Linked DNA regions of Homo sapiens: all the other regions are linked to region 4. The links come from fine-mapping of genetic effects on gene expression. A gene starts in region 4. Each other region holds a variant in brackets. All regions are shown on one strand. Distances are from middle to middle. Region 1 overlaps FAM168A (family with sequence similarity 168 member A). Region 2 overlaps RELT (RELT TNF receptor). Region 3 overlaps RELT (RELT TNF receptor). Region 4 holds the start of FAM168A (family with sequence similarity 168 member A).

Region 1 (5,147 bases), 110 kb before region 4:
AGTCCAGTGTTCTTTCTATGATATCATGCTGTTTCACAATCCAGATGTATTATCTAAAACGGATGTAATTTTGAAATAGCATTTTTCTGCCTTCACACTCTACAATACAGCAGACTTGATATTTTGAGTTCCCTTGAACATGCCATACTCTCTTGTCTCTGAGTCTTTACACATGCTGTTTTGTTTTTAATACCATCGTTCTCCATCATTTCTGGTTTCTCTCACTCATCTTTCCTAGCTCCTTCCCTCTATCCCTCAGTCTGGATAATTCTTCTTCTTCTTTGAAGATGCAGAGTATCACTATATTGCCCAGGTTGGACTCAAACTCCTAGGCTCAAGTGATCCTCCTGCCTCAGCCTCCCACGTAGCTGGGACTACAGGCACGTGCCACCATGCACAGCTTCTGGATAATTCTTACTCTTCTTTTTAGGGTTCAGTTATGTGCAACTTTCTCTGGGATGTTTCTGTAACATTTATCACACTATAATTGTATCCCATCCCTGACTGTAAACCCCATGAGAGCAGTTTTGTCTTGATCAGACTTTCATCCCTAATACCTAGCACAGTCAGGCACAGAGTACCAGGGTTTCACAACCACATCACACAATGGCTTTAAATTATCACATATCTCTGAAGCAGAATTATAATTTGCTAGAAATGGATTGCTGCAGACAGACTTTCTATAACACCCCCACATATTAAAAATTGTGATCAGGGATTTCTAGAGAGACAATAAATCAGCAATCCTCAGAGTCTCTCTTTAACGGTTACTTACAAGAGGTTACATTTGCAATGCAAATATATAAGCTAAATTTTTATCTCCTTAGTCCAATAAAGGCCTGTGATATAGTATAAAAATATTGGGGCTCCTCTTCAAAAGTACAAACTGCCATATTACCTATCACATGTAGTTAGAGAGAGCTAGCTGGAAGAGGTCTGTGGCATGGCATCTGCTATGGTCTAAATATGTCTCCCAAAATTTATGTGTTGGAAACTTAATCCCAAATGCAACAGTGTTGGGAGATAGAGCCTTCTGGGAGGTCTTCAGGTCATAAAGGCTCTGCCGTCATGAATGGATTAACATCCTTATAAAAGGGTTTGATGGAGGAAGTTCATCCTTTCATAGCCTTTCCACCTAGAGCCATGTGAGGACACAGCATTCCTCCTCTCCTCTGGAGGACACAGCATTCAAGGTGCTGTCTTAGAAACAGAGATGGAACTCTTACCAGACAATGAACTTGCCTTGATCTTGGACCTCCCAGCCTCTAGAATTGTAAGAAATAAATTTCTGTTCTTTATAAATTACCCAGTCTCAGGTGTTTTGTTACAGCAGCACAAAATACACAAAGACAACATCCAACAGCCTTTTTTTTTTTTTTTTTTTTTTTTTAAAGGGGGAGAATACTGAGGCATAGAGAAGGGAAGGGACTACCCTAGAAATGCACAGAAAGTCATGGTTGTGGACAGGGCTCTGAGCAAAACCCAAGCCTCCTGACTTTAGATTGGAGGCTTTCTACCATAAATCATCTTGATACTCTTCTCTGGATGGACAGATGAACAACTGGATAGAAAGACCGACAAATAAATATATAAACTATGTGAAAGCATACTTCCAGGAAAGCCCCTCCCCACCTTTTGCTGGTCATAAGTCTTCCTGGGTATTTTAGATCTATCTGTCATGAGACATAGGATACTGAGGGAATGTGAAGAAATACAGGTGTTTGTTGAAGAACCCACAGAGTCAAGGGGTTCTACCAGAATATATTAGTTTTTTGAAGCAAACCTATGAGGCCCACTAGATTATAAATTCTCAACAGCACGTTTATAGCATGCAAAATAATCACCTTCCCTGAGGAAGCAATATGTGTGAAATGTCACCTAGAAATTTCATATAATGGTTAAGAACAAGTTTTTTTTGTGTTGTTTTGTTTTTTTCTTTTGAGACAGAGTCTCGCTCTGTCACCCGGGCTGGAATGCAATGGCGCAATTTCAGCTCACTGCAACCTCCACCTCCTGGGTTCAAGCGATTCTCCTACCTCAGCCTCCCAAGTAGCTGGGATTAAAGGCGTGAGCCACCACGCCCGGCTAATTTTTTGTATTTTTAGTAGAGACGAGGTTTCACCATGTTGGCCAGGCTGGTCTCCAACTCCTGTCCTCAGGTGATCTGCCCACCTCAGCCTCCCAAAGTGCTGGAATTATTTGGCGCACCCAGCCAAGAACAGGTTTTTAAGCCACAGTTAACAGCTGTGAGGCCTTGGATAACTTAATCTCAGTTTCTTCTTCTGTGTAGTGGGAAATACTAGTGGTATCAATATTCCAAGAATGTTGGAAAAATTAAATGAAATAATATATGTTCTGCCTGAGCACATGTAAACACGATAAATTGTGGTTTTTATCATTATTTTGCCTAGAGGAACATCCTCATCACATGCAACTGTCAACAACCAAGACCTACAGTGTCCATAGGGACCCAAGGCACTGGACTGTCCCTTTCCCAGGTCTAGGGCTTTAGAAGGGTAATTACTGAGCCTAAAACGAGTAAGGAAAGTGTTCATTTCACCTTGAGGCTATCTGCCACAGGAAGACAATTACCTCCTCTATAAAACAGAAATACTACCACTTAATATAAAGAATTGCTATGAAGATGCTATGGAGGATAAAAGTAACAAAGTAATATAATCATATCTGTGTTCTAGAATAATATTTCATGGGAAGATGAAGGATGGGTTAGCAAAGGAGAAACAGAAAGTCTTAAAGCAGCTATCCAGGTTAAGGAAATGAAG[A/G]TCTGAACTAGAAAGGAAAGCTAAAACGGAAAAGAAGGAAAGAATATAGGAAAATATTTTGCAGTCGGAACTGACAGAATTTGAAAATTCTCTGTATGCAGGGCTTGAAGAGGGGAAAGTCAGAGGTTTCTGAGGTAAGCATTCAAAGATGGTGTTCATTTGGAAGAAGTAGAGACAAAGATGTCCAACAGACAACTGGGAATCTGGAAATACTGATTTGGGAGATGATGGTTGCTGTGAACTAATTACCCACCAACCATTATTTTTATTAGCTTAGAGGTTAGCAGAAGAGTCCAGCAAGAGTATAAAGGCAGTAAGGAATGAAGATTGTATGGGGGAAGTATAATAGCACAAGAGAATATTGTCAGATGTAATAATTCAGAGCCAAACAGGGCTCTCAGAAAGAATGTCTTTTGAACCTTCTCAGTCGTTAAAGAAGCAAGCCTGCTTGGTTCCCAATGTACTTTCTTGCTGCTTCCTTCCTCCCTCCTTATCTTCAGTCAATAAACCTTTACTGGGTCTTTATCTTATGCCACTTCCAGCATCAGCGCTGAGGATACAGAGTACGTTATATACCATAACTGTTAACATCTTTAATTTTAACAGATGTTTAATGTTAACATCTTTAATTTTCACAGTAACTTTATTTATTATCCCCGTTTTAAGGATGTATAAGCTGAATAGCCCAGCCTATGAGGAACACTCTCCTCTGAGCTTTCATAGTCCTTACAAATTTTATATCACATAGTACTCTGTATCATCAGGTTTTCTTAAATAACCATAATTTATTCATATCCTTTTCTTCCCCAGGGTACAGCACAGGACCAACTACACACTACAGGTATTCAGTATTTGATGATTGTATTATTCTGGGTTCTCTAGAGGGGCAGAACTAAGAGGAGAGAGAGATATATATAGATATATATATCTATATATCTATATATCTATCTATATCTATATATCTATATATCTATATATCGATATCTATCTATATATCGATATCTATATCGATATATATCTATATATAGATATCTATATCGATATCTATCTATCTATATATAGATAGATATAGATATGTATCGCTATAGATATATAGATATAGATATATATAGATATATATATAGATATATATCGATATATAGATATATAGATATATAGGAATTTATTAAGTAGTATTAACCTACAGGATCCTAAGATCCTACAATAGGCCATCTGCAAGCTGAGGAGCAAGGAAGCCAGTCCAAGTCCCAAGCTGAAGAACCTGGAGTCCGATGTTCAAGGACAGGAAGCATCCAGCAAGGGAGAAAGATGTAGCCGGGGTAAGTCAGTCTGGCCTTTTCACATTTTTCTGCCTGCTTTATATTCAACGGTAGCTGATTAGATGGTGCCCACCCAGATTAAGGGTGGGTCTGCCTTCCCCAGCCCACTGACTAAAATATTAATCTCCTTTGGCAACATCTTCACAGACATACCCAAGATCAATACTTTGCATCCTTCAATCCAATCAAGTTGACACTCAGTATTAACCATCACTTTTATTTTAACAACCATCATGTTGTTAAATATACATAACACATCTAAAGGACTGTTTTAAAGTCATTCCATTGACCAAGTTTTTACATGAGATCCTAAAAAGTAGTAATTTCTTACTAATTCATTCAGCAAATCCCTAAGTACTAGATCTGAGCTAATCACTGGTACTGGATCTAGGAGAAACAAATCACACACAGACCCTGCCATCAGGTTTATTGTGGCATCCACTAATGTCACCTATTGTTTATAATGAGTTCTACTTCCTTCAGACATTAGAACCAGAGATACACGTGTCTTTTGAATATTCAAACACTTAATAGGAATAAACTATCAGCTGAAAGAATACGTGAATGAATGATAGACAATCTGAACCTTGGACCAGGCCTTGGTCTGGTCACCGGAAAGCTGAGCGTTCTTAGCAATGAGCAAAAACTTCTAGTACTAAATTTACCCCAGCTTTTTTACTAAATTTACTATATTATCCTATTTCCCCTTCACTGATAATCTGTTTGTTTTTCGTCCTATTTTATTACGTGTATTTTAAAAATTCATTCCCTTTAGGAAAAAACCATAGGTATACAGAATGTAATCAATCAACCTGAAGATGGTATAATGAGTCTCCTACTTTGTCCAGATGCCCTGCTGAAGGTTTGGAGTCAAACCAGGCCCAATGTGCAAGTCAGCAGCAAAGTCAGTAGCTACTACTACCTAAGTTTAATAAAAAGGGTCTCTGGTGGAGGAACTGTGTTGCTTCAGAGCAGCCAGGGAACTCTATTCTTCAAAGCCCACCCTCTTCAAGTTTTCAGCCCCCGCATTTATAAATAGGGAAGT
Region 2 (5,147 bases), 210 kb before region 4:
CTGTGGGTTAGATCCCTCAAAGGACAGAGGAGGGGCCATGGGGAGACAGGCTCGAGGTGGGAGCTGGGCCCTGACAAGGGCACAGGACACTTTGGGGCAGAAACTGGAAGGAAGACTTGTGACCAAATTTAAGGAGTGACAGGGGACCCTCCCCAAATAGCCTGGGGGTGCCATCTGTTGGGTGTTGACTGCCAGGTGTGGCCTCCACCCTATACTGTGGCCCTACCTTCTCCTGTCCCTGGCTTTCCCCTGAGCTGGCCTGGGACCCAGAGTGGCTGCCAGTGACCTGGAGAGTCCTGAGATGATGTAACTGCTGCCCACTCCCTCCCCTGAGTGTAACTCAAACCCTGGGCCCCTCTGAGATCTGCCAAGAGGGAGGGCGGGTGGACAGATCGGTTTCCTGGGCTGCTATTCTAGGTGGGAGGGCCGGGCTGCCTGCAGGGAGAGGACTCTGAGTGATTTGGGACTACCACAGGAGGCGCTTTTCTCACCTCACCGGCCTTGGAGTCACAGCGGGGGCCTCAGCCGCGGCGGCCCTGAGCCAGTGGCTGGGTTCCCAGGCTGCCCCTGGGCTTAAGAGGCTGCGTGTGGCCTGAAGAGCACGGCTTTCCTCAGCCTCGTGCCCCTGAAGCCAGGCCTCCAGGAAGTACACAGCGGACTTCCTTGCTCTGCCACCTGTCCCTTCTGCTGTCTGATGTGAATCCTTTGTCCTGCTGTGTCCGCCTCGTCCACTGGCCGGAGGCTTCTCCAGAGCAGGCCACCGTCTGGGCCTGGGGGCCTCAGTCTCAGACCGGTGGGCCGTGACGCCACCATGGATATTTCTCTGAAGTATCACACACTGCACTCCCACTCTGCTTTATTTCGTTTCTTGGCACTTACCACCAAATGGCAGGGGCACCTCTCTGTTTGCAGTTGGGTCTCCCCTGGGATGGAGCTCCCTGCAGACAGGGACCTTGTCTGTCTTGTTCATACCGATTTCTCCAGTGCCCGCACGCAGTAGGTGCTGGAGAGATGACAAAGACAGAGCACTGGCTGCCGTGACCACCCCAGCCCCATAGGTCTGCCAGGGGAAGAGCTGTGGCCAGACATGTTCCAGCCTCAAGGGAGGAGTCAGCCTCCCTGGAAGAGGTGTGGACAGTGGCCATGCAGAAGGACCAGGACCTAGATGGGGTGGGGAGCTGTGGGAGCCAGACCCACTTTGGGGAAAGCTTCTAGAGAAGCTTCTGGAAAGAGAGGCCTTCGTGTTGAGCTTTGAAGGGTAAAGGAAAAGGCCTTCCTTGGACCAGAACCAGCAGGAGTGAAGGCAGAGGCCGGGCATGCTTGCAGACCTGTGAGGAGGAGGCGGGGGGAGCCTGAGCCTGGAGCGCTGGGCTGGAGTGTGGAGGCCGGGCTGGGGTGTTGGGTGTTGGTTGCAACCCTGTCATCACGGACACAGGCCGCCACACGCGCTTCCTTCCCCTGCTGATGCCTCGGGGCACCTGGCAGTTTAAGGAAGGGGAAGGAAGCCCTTCCTCCTCTGGGAAGCCTCCCAGCCTGCAGAGCCTTCTTCCTGCCTTCCTGCCTGTGCTGCCCCGTGAGGCCGGCTCCCAGGCAGGGCAGCCCCCTCTGCTTGGGCCTGTGCTTGCGGGTGTGGAGCCGGCCTCCCCGGGCTCTGCCTGCCCAGCAGCACCTTGCCTGCTCCCCATGAGTCCTGTCATCCTGGAAGTGGTGCTGAGGGGACAGCAGCTGCCTGCCTGTCCCTGCCGCTCTGCCGAGCCTCCTCTCCATCTGCCCTAGGCCGGCGACCACCAGGGGCCTGAGGATGAAGCCAAGTCTGCTGTGCCGGCCCCTGTCCTGCTTCCTTATGGTGAGCTGGGGATGGGCCCTGGGAAGGAGAAAAGCCGCACCCTCAGCCCTGCAGCCCTCCAGCAAGAGGGTGCAGACACTCCCGGGGAACCCCCTGCTGGGCAGGGCTCAGTTACTCAGCTCGTCAAGAATCTGAGGCAGCTGGACCCTAGGAAGCACCTCTGGGCCCACCCAGGCTTGTCAGGGAGATGGAGAATGAAGGGCTTGCTGGCATTTATGGGCAAGGCAGGCATGGCTGAGGGCAAGATGCCCATTGGCACGCAGGCATGAGAAC[G/A]GAGCCCAGCCCAGAGGGTATGCTGGGCACCAAGAGGAAACTGGGCAAAAGAGGCCTGGGATTTGGACCCTGAGAGCCATAGCACCTCAGGTGCTGGGGTTCAAGATCTGTATTGGTCTGGGGGATCCCAGATTCCAGGTCCCAGGATCACAGGATCAGGCCAGCTGCCCGGAGCTGCAGGCAAGTCCACATTACAGACTTGCAGCATCTTGGGGTCTGCCCTGGGGCCCATCTTTCTGCTGTGACGCTAGAAGCTCAGGGAGGGTGAGACTTGGCCTTGGGCCTTGCTAAGGGTTGCTCCATGTACAGGAGGCCTTCCAGCCTTAGCAGGTGCTGGGAGCCGCTCTGGGGTCTGAGGAGATCCCTATTCCATCTCCAGGGCAGCTGATGGTAGCCTCATCCAGCCTAGGCCAAATTGGGGGACTCTAGGAGGGATTCAGGAGAGACAGTTCATTCCTAAGAATGGGAAGCAGAGAGAACTCCTAGTGAAATGGGCTGGGGACACACACTGAGAAGATGGAGCTTTCTTTTGGGATGCGTCTCCCTGTTTGGGTGTGTGGGTGTGAATGGGGTAGCCTCGCCTTGAGGGAAGATTGCAGAGGAGGATGTGGTCCTGGAGACTTTCGCTGAAGGGAGAGCCCAGAATAGGAAGCGCCACCTGCAGACTTGGCTCCAGGGATTATAAATGAGGCTGGTTAATGATATGCCCAGCTGTGATGGGGCCAGGGATGGACCCAAAGTAGGAGGAAGTGGGGGCAGAATACGAGAGAGGATTCGGAAGCATTTCCTCCTCATCGTTCTGGTTAGCTGGAAGGGCTTGAGATCCTGATGTGGCCTTATCTGGGGCTTTCCAGCACTTTCCAGAGCCAGATGTGGCTCTCTCCTTGCCCAGGTACTGGTCTTGCAGCAGGTCTGGGACAGGACAGGTTTTCCTCAGTGTGAGGGATTGAGGTTAGAAGAGTGTGTCCCTGAAGCCCGGGTGGGGTAGTCAGTGGTCCCTACCACTGGGGTTTCAGGAAATAGGTGGGGGATAGATGACCCCAGAGACCCCACACCCAGCACTTTCTGCCTCTTTCAATGCCTACTGTTCTTCTAGCTGCTGCCCTGGCCTCTCGCCACCCTGACATCAACAACCCTTTGGCAGTGCCCACCTGGGGAGGAGCCCGACCTGGTGAGCATTGCCCTGCTCTCCTGCCTGTCCTGGGAGGGCCCTGAGGGCCAGGGGCAGAGTCCTGTGCCTGGCCCCCAAGGGTCCTCAGGCTTGGCTCCTGGCCATGCTCTCACCCTTTACCTCCCACAGGACCCAGGGCAGGGCACATTATGCAGGCCCTGCCCCCCAGGCACCTTCTCAGCTGCATGGGGCTCCAGCCCATGCCAGCCCCATGCCCGTTGCAGCCTTTGGAGGAGGCTGGAGGCCCAGGTGGGCATGGCAACTCGAGATACACTCTGTGGAGACTGCTGGCCTGGGTAAGCCAAAGGGAGTGCGGGGAGGGCTCCTGGCTGGGTGACCAGGACTCTGGATCCTGGGGCCCCAGCCTTATTGTACCCTGAGCAGGCCTCATTCTTCCCATCTGTGAAATGGGATGGGGCAGGACCACGGAGGGTGCCTGGTAGGAAGGAATCCAGCCTCTCCTAAGGATAGTGTTTGGGGAAACTTCTGGGCCTCAGTGGTATCTTCCCTCCTCGCAGGTGGTTTGGGCCTTGGGGGGTTCCCCGCGTTCCATGTCAACCATGTTCCTGGGCACCTCTGGGTACTCATGGCTGTGATGGTGAGTGGCAGACTGGGGCTAGGACTGGTGCAGGGGTATGTGCGGGAGGGGCCAGTGAGTTGGAGCCCAGCAGCCTCTGCAGTGTTCATGTGGGGGCAGTGGGGTCCTTCTTCCAGCCCAGGGCAGGGCGTGCAGCCAAAGGGTCTCCAGCAGGGCACAGTCAGCCGCTCCCCTGGCTGTTTCTGCCCACCATGCTTCCGAGTGGCAGAGAGTGTCCTGCAGATGGCAGCCACAGCTGGGGGCTGGGGACTCACATACTGACCTGTCCCCTGTCCCCATCCCTTCAAAGAGATTCATGCCAGCCAAGTGCAGTGGCTCATGCCTGTAATCTCAGCACTTTGGGAGGCCAAGGCAGGAGGATCACTTTGAGACCAGCTTGGGCAACATAGCAAGACCCTGTCTGCAAAAAATAAAAATAAAAAATTAGCCGGGCGTGGTGGTGCTACTCGGGAGGCTGAGGCGGGAGGATTGCTTGAGTCCATGATTTTCATGCTGCAGTGAGCTGTGATCGCCCCACTGCACTCCAGCCTGGGCAACAAGTGAGACCCTGCCTAAAAAAACCCATGCAGATGAGTGTGCGCATGCAAACACTCACATACCCACACGCACCTCCTCCCGCCACTGAGTCAGTCACCCCCTGAGGCACTAGATTCATGGCCAGGCCACAGGGAGGCAGATCCCACGTCCCTGTGCCCAGACATGTGTCCTGTGTGCCATCTCTTCACCCCCTGACCCCAGCGTGAGGGGAGGGTGGGGCTGGGTGTCTGGCCGTCCTGAGGAGGCCTTGTTCAGGACAATGCTTCGATGGCCAGAAGGGAAAACAGGAGGGCAGTGGGTTGACCTTTGCATCCCCAGCATGGCGGGGAGTGGGCTCCCCTGGGCACATTGGCTCTCCTGCAGCCCCCACTGACTCGGGCCCTGGGCCCCTGTCTCTCTGTGTTTGTGTCACTCTGCTTTTGTCCTGCCTCCATCGTCTGTGATGCTCAGAGTGGGGGCGGCGGGCCCGACGTGGCGTGGAGGTGGCAGCAGGGGCCAGCAGCGGTGGTGAGACACGGCAGCCTGGGAACGGCACCCGGGCAGGTGGCCCAGAGGAGACAGCCGCCCAGTACGCGGTCATCGCCATCGTCCCTGTCTTCTGCCTCATGGGGCTGTTGGGCATCCTGGTGTGCAACCTCCTCAAGCGGAAGGGCTACCACTGCACGGCGCACAAGGAGGTCGGGCCCGGCCCTGGAGGTGGAGGCAGTGGTGAGGCCCAGCTG
Region 3 (5,147 bases), 220 kb before region 4:
GCTGCACTCAGGGGCTACTGATAGGGTTGGAAGCACAGCCTTCTCCAAAACTGGTCAAGGAAACGTTAGCCTCCCACCCAAAGGCTTCCTGGTCCTCTGTCACGAAATGGATCCATAGACAATATGGATCCCCAAATCCATAGACATTCACTTCTCTGCCTGGGTGTCCTTTCTTCAGTTCCTTGGGTTGGGGGAGAGTGGGGAGAGACTTGTTCCCCAGGAGTGGTCTCTGGTCTGGGAGGCTAAGTTCTTGCTGGAGAGCTGGAGCGGTACCCTTTCGCCATCTGGGCAAGACCCTTCTGAGGCCCCTTCTCCCGTATGAAGGTCTGTGGGGTTCATGCAGGGTGGGGTGGAAGCTGAGCTCCCTAGTCTAGGAGAGGGTGGCACTTGCTGTAGAATCTGGAAGTTCTGTCTTCTGCTGTCGTCCTCTGAAAATGCTGATTACATTCTAGGGGTGGGGGACAGGGTGGGGGACAGTGTCAGGCACTGTTCTGAACACTTCATGGTGTTCTGTCTTGTTGAATCTTCGCAGTGATTCTGAGATGTAGTGACTGTGTTTCAGAGAAAGGAACTGAGGATCAGAGAAGCAAAGTGACTTGGCCAAGGTCATACAGAGTCAGGACAGTGCCAGGACTGGAATTCAGGTCTTCTGACCCCAGAGACCAGTGAGATGCTGGGAGAGAGGATCACCCACCTTCCTAATAACTGCTCATGGCTTTCCTGGACTTCTGTCTCTCAAACTTGGGCTAGTAGGCGTGGCCTAGCCAGGGCATTACATTGTGAGTTCTAAGTATGATGTGTGTGTGTGCACACATGTCTGGAACACTGGGGATGGGTGGGTTACATGGTCTTCCTGTTCCTCCCCAGACTTCACTCCCAACCAGACATCACCAGAAAGTCCTGTCCCCTGCCTTCTAGAGCCTGGACCTGGCTTTGGGGGTGTCCCCATGGCTTTGAAGAGTGTATGGAGTTAGCAGCACAGCCTAGGGGTAGCAGGGAAAATTGAGAGTCCCAGGTGACCTTCATCATACTTGAGAGGCCCCCTCCCCTTTGCAGTTGCTCTAGAGGCATTTCCCCAAATCCACCTGCATGTTATGGTGGGGAGCAGACAGGGAGTGACCTTGAGCTGGTCCCTACTCTCTCTGGGCCTCGGTCTCCCTGTTCTTCCCAGAGACCCCTTTTGGCTCTGACCACTGTTGCCACTTGGCCAAGAACTGGAACTGGGGATCAGGGTGTCCCTCGGTCCTCTCTGCAATGACTGGAGCTGTGCTTCTTGGGGCTGATGAAAATAGCTGTCGTGGTCTCTAGGGGCTGAGCCGGAGTTATTTCCATCCTCAACAAAGAGGTGGAAATAGCTTAGGGCCTGGGAGGGGGAGCAAGAGGAGAAGGGTTAACTTCTCCTTATCCCAGCCTTAAAGGAGGCCCCCAGCCTCAGCCTGTGCCCTGGCCAAGCCAAACCTTTCTGGGAACTTGGGCCTCTGGGGATGACAGTGGGGCCAGGCTGGGTTTCCACTTGTGACCACAGTTGGGACTGGTGTGATAGCTGCTGGAGGGAGGGCCCTATGTCTAGCCAAGGAGGGGAGATATTGAGGGCCAGTCAGCACCTGCCCCTACTCATAGGGTCAGGCCCAATCTCATTTCACAGAAGGAGAGATTGAGGTTCTGAGAATTCAGGGACTTACCCTAGGACTCCTAGAACCTTCACCTTCCAGACGCGGTACCTGCCTTCTGTCCTGAGTTTGTCATTCTGTGTCCACACTTTCCCTGGCGGCTGGAGGTTGGCCAGCACTGGAAGCAGGCCCAAGACACACCTTCTGGACGTCGGCCTGCCTCATATTCCAGCTCTGGCCTTGCCATCCCTGCCCAGGCTCTGGTTCTAGCTTCTGTGCTTCCACGTCGGCTCTCCCGCACACTGCCAGAGTGACCTCCATAAAATAACTTGCTTTTCGCCTACAAAGTGTAGTTCAAACTCCTCACCTGGCAATGAGGCCTTTCCTTCCAAGGCCTTTCAGAATTTGCATCTTTACCCTCGCCTCTCCTTGCCAGATGCCTTGTCTGCCTTGCCTTTGCTTTTAAAGCTTCCCTCTTTCTAGAACCCTCTTGGCCATCCAGACTATAGCCCCAGCTCCACCTCACCCAGGAAGCCCTCCTGGCCCGAAATTAGTCTCCCTTCATTGTTGTGGGCCACCTGCCAGGTGTCCTCCCTCACTGCTGGGGAATGGGCACAGGTTTGGGGCACCTGTGGGTACCGCATGCTCAGCTTGGTGGGGCCAGCGTGGCCAGTAGCCCACCCCCTCCCACTGCCGTCTCTGTGCTGACGAGACCTCTTCCTGAGGAAGGGCAGCTGCTCTAGGATCCCAGCACCTGTGTGCTGGGAGGCACCGGGAGATTTGCACCCAGGTCTCTGGTGCTCACCATGACCTGAGGCAGAATGTGTGCTGGCGGGTGGGGGCAAAGACTCACGGCCACTCCTGTGGGTAGGGGGCAAGTGTAGTGCTTGTCATGGTCCTCGACATCTTGAGCCAGTAGAGGCAACTGTCCCTGCTCAGGCCCTGTAGTGTGCCAGGCTCTGGGCCCAGCATTTCCTCACAACAGCACTCACCCGGGCCCTCTCCTTTCCAAGTTGGTATGGGGGAACCTCGACTCAGAGAGCAGCCCTAGGCTGAGTCACGCAGCCACTTGTGTTGTAGTCAGGTACTCCAGATCCTACCCAGCCCCCAGCCTGGTCTCCAGGCAGGAGGTGAGGGTCGAGGGGTTTGTCTGACAATTCTAACATTAGTTTCTCAAGAAGGGCCAGGCTGGTCAGCACCCAGTCTGGCTGGGCGGGACCTGACTACTTCTGTTATGGGGCCAGCCCTTCTGCCAGGTCAGCAGGAGAGAGGACCAGAGAGGAAGGGGTTTTGCCTGAGGTTACTCAGCAGGGTGTGTTTGGCGCCATTCCCCACTCAGGATCGATGGGGGAGCAGGGATGTGGTCTCTGGACAG[G/A]GAGAATACCCACTGTGTGCTGAACCCGTGTCTTTCTGGGCCTAGGCTTGGTGCTGCTGAGTGGGGCTGGAGTGGCAGAGAGGACAAGAGCCAATGCTGCATCCCTACTCTGCCCATCCGTGGGATTATGGCCCGGGAGGCTGTCACATCCTCAGCCTTATACTCCTGGGGGTCATCATTCCCTCCAAGCACAGGCAGGGAAACCAAGGCCTAGAGAGAGGAGGCACTTGCCAGGCCCCAGTGTCACTGGGATCCAAACCCAGGTCTGCTGGCCTTGAAGACCAGAGTTCTTTCCTAGGCCACTCTGGGAAAGATGAGAGCTCTATAAATAAGCTGCCCATGTGGCTGTGAGCAAGTGCCCTGGCTAGTTGTCACAGACAGAGGGGGACAGCGGGACCTCTACAGCCAGTTAGAGTCAGGGTCTGAGTGTGCAGGTAGAGAGAGGAGTGGGGGCTTCCAGAGGGGGGACCTGCGCTTAGCCCAGTGCATGCACTGTGAGGAGGAGCAGTGAGAGGGGAGGACCTTGGCCACCCACACCACCAGCCTGCTGCATGCCTGGCCTCCTGCACAGACCCTTTCCCTCCCTCCCTCAAGGAGCCTCACCCCTTCTCGAGGAATCAAGGGAGACTGAAAACTGATGGCAGGGGTGAGGGGTGGGGGAGTCTGGAGAGGAGAGGGGGCCCTCTTGACAGGGAGGCTGGGGAGGCTTCCTACAGGAGGGGATGCCTGGCCCAAGGCCTGATTGTAAGAAGAGCCCCTGTTGCCTGTGAACGCTGAGTCCTCCACCACACCATGAGGTCAGCTGCACTGGTGTAATTGGGAAACAGGCTTGGGAAGTTGGGGCTGGGTTCCTGACTGCTGAACTACCCCTTACATTCCTGACCATGGCCCTGGCTGGTGTGGGAGCAGGTGGACGTAGGCCTGTACAGGGGCTGGGACATGGGCACCCAGGGCCCTCCCAGAGAGGCCGAGGCCCCTCTACTTGTGCTGCCAGGGTTTACGTGGAGTTCCCCAAAGCACTCTTGCCACACCCAAGCCTCTGGGTGACCTCGGCTGGCTGTTGCTTGGTCCTGAGCTTGGGTTCCTCTGGCCCTCGTGGAGCTGTGTTGAGAGCCCTCAGTATCCCATGAGGCAGGGACTAGCACCCCTGTTTGCAGAGGAAGACCCCGAAACTCAGGGAGGGTAAGTAACCTGCCCAAGGCCATCGATCTGCGAAGTGACAGAGCCAGAGTCTGAACCCTGGTGGGTTGCTCCAGGGCCCAACCTTGTCTCCTCCCTGCTCCACCACTGCACTTGCACTGACCCCAGTCCTCAGCGTAGCTCCACTGGGTAGGACCTGACCTGGGATGGCCCTGGGGGCGCCTCTTTCCCCAGCACCGCAAGTCTGGGGAGAGTTGGAGAATGGGGCAGACCAGGGCTGTGGTCTCCCCCAAGTCCCTCCCAAAGCCTCTGCCCAGGTCTTCCAGGTCAGGGTGATTGGGGGCAGGGCCCATGCTGAGCACATTAGGGACTTGGGATCAGTTTTATGGCCGGGGCAGGTGGCAAAGGTGGCTTCTTGGAGGAGGTAGCAGAGCATGAGCCGGGGCTGCAGTGAGGTGTCCTTCAGCACCCCCAGACCCGTTGCTGTCCTGTCTCAGGGCCAGGGTTGGCAACACAGGGCTGTCTGTGGTGCTGAGAGGTTGACGGTGGCCAGAAGCAGTGGAGATACCAGGCCTGGGTGGCTCAGGCAGGGGTCGCCTGCCAGTTGCCCCTACTCCAGGGTAGGTAAACTTCATCTCCTTCAAGGTGAAGTTGTTACAGGCTACCACTTGACCTCTCTGAGCCTCAGTTTTTTCTGTGTGAAGCATGGAACACTGTCTTTGAGGGGTTCAGTGAGACCCAGCTTAGAGTGGGAAGGGGACAGGCAGTAGTGCTCAGTGAGGAGGGTTAGGGAGCCTCCTCTCTGCCCGAGATAACTGTCTGGTCTCAGACATCCCTCCTCTAGCCCCAGACTCGGCCCAGGAAGTGGGGCAAGGATTGCACCTGTACCATACCCAGACTGGGAGGAGCTGGGTGGGCCAGGTGTGGCCACCTCAGCCCTTTTCTTGGCCTCAAGGGGCCAATTTAGCCCCCTTAGCCTCAGCCCCACCCCATCCACCTGAGCCACTGAAACCCAGGCCTGG
Region 4 (5,147 bases):
TTAATGCAATTAGGTCCATAGAACTGTTTCTCTAAAGATGTTCCCTCCATTTGCACTCCTGTGTACCTTCCATTATCATCGTTCTGCCCTAAGAATGAGCATATCGCTAAGGTTTAAATCGAATTTCTGATGAATAGGTGGAGATGCTGTTTCTGTAGTTAATACAATGCGACTACATCAACATCATTCCCCAAAAAATAAAATAAAAATGACTCAATATGCTTTATTTATTCACATCTGACAGAATTCTGATCACCTGAATTCCTTTGGAAGAAAATTCAATCTTTAGAAATACAGTCCAATTATTCTAAATCTTATCAATGTCAAAAGACAATCATATGAAAAACTCCATCAGTACCAAACCATCTCACCAATGAATATTTATGACATTTCCATATTTCCTGTCTTCTCTGTTTACATAAAGCGGTGGTGCCAAGACTCATCTCAGGATTATTAGCCTGCAATACAATGATGGGCCTAATTGCCTTGCAAACCAGGACACTAACAAATGGCGTCTTCAAGCAATCAATTTAAAGAGGGGGTAAAAAAGGCCCAAGCTCTTTTTGCCTATGTGCTTGTTACCTACCTACAAAATAAATTCAGTCTCATATTTTTCAGGCTCACTCATTAGTTCTCAAGCAAGGAATGCACCCTTAACAATCTCAAGCTCATCAAATCTATTTAAATTTCAAAATGCCTGGCTAGTTTTTAAATACACCAGGAGGAGAGGGGAAAAGAAAAGGCAGAGACATCATATAGAAAGATATCCATTACATTCCAGTTTATCTTCTCCCACCTTTAGTTTGGAAGTATGCTTTTTTCCCCCAACTTACTTTTTATGATATACAAATAACAGAAGACACCCTCCCCTCCTTAATTCTACCTTAACTAAATCCCCTTTCAACTTTACCCTTTGGGCTGACTTGACTTCCAAATTTTACTAATATAAATAAAACAAACAAAAACATCACCCGAACAGATTAAAATGGCCCCTAAGAATGAGAAGGTCTCTTCCGTGTCCCCTGCAAAGTCCCCTCTAACAGCCTTACTGCCTCTCACCCAACCACAGCCACCAAGGCTGTTCATTTAAGTATTCCAACCCTTAACCCTCATGTGTCTCTTGGAGGCCACCCCAATCCTTCACCACCAAAATAATCCAACCCAATTCCCCCCTGCTCTCCAGCACAGCTCACTGTCCCTCTCCATCCTCTCTGCCCCATCCATACCAACAGCTCCAGGTCTCCCATTCCTTAAATTTCCCCTGTGCCACCTCACCATCAGCAACCACCTCCCCAGGCCTACCAGCTCATCTCCGAAAGTCCTTCTCCAAAACTCCCTCTGCCACCTTGGCCAAGGGATATTTTCTTCAAGATACCATCCCCCAACTTTGCTCACCCCTGCCGCTATCCTTTCAATGAAAGCAGCCCAGTGATGTTTTATGTGCCCTCTGCCTTGACTCTGCAACCAAGGAGCCACCATGCCCTTTCCAGTGATTGTAAGATCACCCTAAATCCAACCCACTGTGCCCCACACTCCATTTCCATCCCTGTCCTCCCATTTCGGGCCTGACTTCCAATGTGGCCCCTTCCTGCCAGCTCACCATCACACTCCCCTCACTGAATGTCCCACCTCCACCAACTCCTATTCCAACCTCCATCAGCCCACCCCAGGAAACCCCCAAATTGCACTCTTCTGCTCTATCCTAACCCATGCTATTCCATAAGTCTCCACAAATTCCACCAGCCCCAGATGACAAACACCCACTTCAAGCTTGGGTCTCAACCCATGCCAAGCCCCTCACCCCCAACTCCTGCCACCTCCATCATCCTGCCCCAGGTCCACCCCAAATTCCACCCTTCTGAATTAACACTACGCAGGGCCCTAACCAACCCTGTACATGCCACTCACTCTCCGTTGAAATCATTCCCCTGCCCCTCACCCCAGCTCAGATCCCAAGCTGTCAACTGCTCCAGGCCAAACCCAAATCACCACCCTCATTCAGTCCCCTCCCCCATTAAAAGCCATCCCACCCTAGTCTCATCTTCCACCTCGCCCCAAGACCATCCCGAATTCCAACCCGACGCCCCCACCCCACTCTCCTGTCCCAGGTTGGGTTATTCTCCATCAAAAGTCCTCCTCCCTTGTCGCCCGCCCCCCAACCTGCTTGGGTCCCACCCTCACCCCACCCCCGGCCAGCGCCTGGACAAGTCTCCCCCGCCAGCCCGCCGTTCCATCGCGACCTCAACCCCCTCCCCCCAACCTGCACGGGGGCTCCGCAGCCTCCCCTCTCATTCTCGCCAGCGCCACCGGCCCAGACTCAGGACCAGCGGACCCTGTGGCGGGGGGAGTCTCCTCACCGGTGAGCAGCTGCAGGCGAAAACGGCGGCGGCGGCGGCTGAGGCGGCGATGCCCTTGTCTTCTCCGGAGGCTACGGCGGCGACGCTCTCGCCCGTGTCCAGTAGGGTGGCGGATGGCGCGCGGGGACCGGAGCCTCCTCCTCAGCGACTCGGCTCTGAATCCTCTGCAGTAGCCGCCGAGGAGCCCGACGGGTGGGGGGAGGGGACGCTCGGCTGCGGGCGAGGGAGGAGGAGGCGGAGGGAGGAGGCGGGGGACCGCTCAGAAGGGCAGGGAAGGAGGAGCCGGCGCGGCGCCGCGACACGTCCCACAGCCTCAGAGCGCCGGGACCACAACTCCCGGCATGCCCTGCTTTAGCCCGCGCGCGGCCTGCGCCTCCCGCCGCGAGCCCGGTGCAGAGGGGCCGCGCCCTCTCCGGTCACGGACAGTGGAATAAAGCCAACCATCCGCTGGCGAATTTTGTAGACTCAAAGACCACCTGTGAGGAAAGTCAGGTCGCCCGAGGCCCCATCCCCAAGGGGCCGTACTCGCAGCGTCTCCATCCTCTTTGCATAGACACCCCCCTCCCCCCGCCCACACACACACACACACTCTCTGTCTCTCCCTCTCTCCCTCTCTCCCTCTCTCCCTCTCCCTCTCGTCTCTGTCTCTGGACTACACCTCCCAGCATGCCCCTCAGCTTCCTATTCTCCTTCCGGACCCTTCTCAGACCCGGTACTACAGTTCCCAGGGAGTGTGGTCCCTGCGAAATGCTGGGAGATGGAGTTCTCGGTTCTTCCTCCATGTTAAGAAAAAGAAGTGAAAGAGAGGCAAAAGGGAAGGAATACGCCAGCCCACCGAGGATGGGCCTTGATGGGCTAGATCACCTGTGATTCTGTTCATCCCTCGCCATCTCCGTTTCAGCTGTCTCTCACCAGAACTAATGCCGGAGCTTCCTCGCTGGTCTCCCTGCAAATTTGAGGACGATTCGGCAACTTGAATCCAAACGACAAAGGGCATATCCTCTTCTTGACCCAGCTCCATTACTTTTAAGAATTTACCTTAAAAAGATGATCGAACAATTTCGAAAAGATGAATGCACAAAGTTGTTATATGACGTAGTTAATTATGAAGGGAGTAAATGTTCATCGATAGGGTGCTGCTTAAATAAGACGTGACATATACATACAATGCAATACTAAGGAGCCATTTAAAATGATATAAATCTATTGACATGAAAAGCTATTCACAATTTATTCTTCGGGGAAAAAGTTGATTACACAACAGCATGTCTACACGAGTGCATTTATGTGAGGTTTGACACAATATTCTACAAGCATGGAGAGATTTCAGGAAAGAGGTTCGCCAAAATATTAGCAATGATTATCTTGGGGGAAAGGGTGTCAGATTGCACGTAGGTTTTTTTTGTTTTTTGAGACGGAGTCTGGATCTATAGCCAGGCTGGAGTAAAGTGGGGGCGATCGCAGGTCACTGCAACCTCTGCCTCCCGGGTTCAAGCGATTCTCCTGCCTCAGCCTCCTGAGTAGCTGGGACTACAGGCGCGCGCCACCACATCCAGCTAATTTTTGTATTTTTAGTAGAGATGGGGTTTCACTATATTGGCCAGGATGGTCTCGATTTCTTGACCTCCTGACCTGCCCGCCTCAGCCTCCCAAAGTGCTGGGATTACAGGCATGAGCCACAATGCCCGACTGTAATTTTTGTTTTCATATTGTTTGAATTGTTTAAAAGGAGCACATAACGACTGTTTTTTGTTTTCTTTTTTGTTTTGTTTTAATTGTAAGAGACGTCGTCTCACTATATTGCCCAGGCTGGTTTCAAACTCCTGGCCTCAAGAGACCCTCCTGCCTCAGCTCTCAAAAGTGCTGGGATTACAGGTGTGAGCCACACTACACCTGGACAATTTTTTAAGCTGTGCTACTTCCAAAAAACATAATTTCCAAATCTAACAACCTTTCTTTGCTGCCTAGATGCTTTCCATGGCTTCCCATTGTCTCATTCATGCTTCAGCACTGTGCCTGCCTGGTTTTAATAGTTCCACTATTAAAACAAATAATAGTAGTCACTTCCAATTCATAAAGTTGGAAGGGAGAATTTTCTCAATTTTCAATGCGTCTTCTCAAAATTTTTCCATTTCTGGTCTTTCCACACCCATTTTCTCCTTTTCTCTTACTCATTCTTCAAACTCAAGCCAAAGTCCTACCTTCCCTAGAACATATTTTAGACACACTGGTTTTCCTTATATCTGAATTCTTTTTTGTTTGTTTGTTTGTTTGTTTGTTTGTTTGAGACAGAGTCTTGCTCTGTCAGCCAGGCTGGAGTACAGTGGTGCAATCTCGGCTCACTGCAACCTCCGTCTCCCGGGCTCAAGCAATTCTCCTGCCTCATCCTTCCGAGTAGCTGGGATTACAGGCATGTGCCACCATGCCTGGCTAATTTTTTTTTGTATTTTTAGTAGAGATGGGGTTTCACCATGTTGGCCAGGCTGGTCTTGAACTCCTGACCTCAGGTAATCCGCCTGCCTCGGCCTCCCAAAGTGCTGGGATTACAGGCGTGAGCCACCGCTCCCGGCTTATCTGAATTCTTATAGCAGTGGTTTCTAATCTGTTGGCCAGAGATCACGGTGGGGAGAGGAAGTGAAGAGAGAGGTACAGAGTTATTGTAAAGGGCCTATGCAGCTCTGCCTACACAAAGCTATATGTCTTGCACTTTAAAAAAGTTTTTCTCTTCTTCTGACCCTTGTGTCCAGCTCTTCTAGAATACAGAATGTAGTATCAGATTATTTTTGATTT

Evidence for each region. PIP is the estimated chance that this variant, and not a neighbour inherited with it, causes the effect.
Region 1: its variant is fine-mapped to the expression of FAM168A in whole blood (INTERVAL, PIP 0.98).
Region 2: its variant is fine-mapped to the expression of FAM168A in whole blood (INTERVAL, PIP above 0.99).
Region 3: its variant is fine-mapped to the expression of FAM168A in whole blood (TOPMed, PIP above 0.99).

Annotation. Positions count from the first base shown.
Region 1 is chr11:73,480,817-73,485,963 of GRCh38, forward strand. The region is part of intron 1 of FAM168A (family with sequence similarity 168 member A); the gene reads right to left. Among named protein-coding and RNA genes, the nearest start is that of RELT, 110 kb to the left of the region's middle. The variant A/G (reference allele first, on the strand shown) is at 2,784.
Region 2 is chr11:73,387,336-73,392,482 of GRCh38, forward strand. RELT (RELT TNF receptor) reads left to right here. Exons shown (of 11, transcript NM_152222.2): 2 at 1,777-1,846; 3 at 3,216-3,290; 4 at 3,420-3,586; 5 at 3,809-3,888; 6 at 4,876-5,133. The coding sequence starts at 1,802. Among named protein-coding and RNA genes, the nearest start is that of RELT, 14 kb to the left of the region's middle. RefSeq lists enhancers at 1-736, 656-815, 737-1,684, 1,520-1,629. The variant G/A (reference allele first, on the strand shown) is at 2,120.
Region 3 is chr11:73,377,883-73,383,029 of GRCh38, forward strand. The region is part of intron 1 of RELT (RELT TNF receptor); the gene reads left to right. Among named protein-coding and RNA genes, the nearest start is that of RELT, 4.1 kb to the left of the region's middle. RefSeq lists an enhancer at 1,583-1,662. The variant G/A (reference allele first, on the strand shown) is at 2,986.
Region 4 is chr11:73,595,566-73,600,712 of GRCh38, forward strand. FAM168A (family with sequence similarity 168 member A) reads right to left here and starts at 2,547. Exons shown (of 8, transcript NM_015159.3): 1 at 2,358-2,547. RefSeq lists an enhancer at 1,881-2,609 and silencers at 2,501-2,630, 2,761-2,990.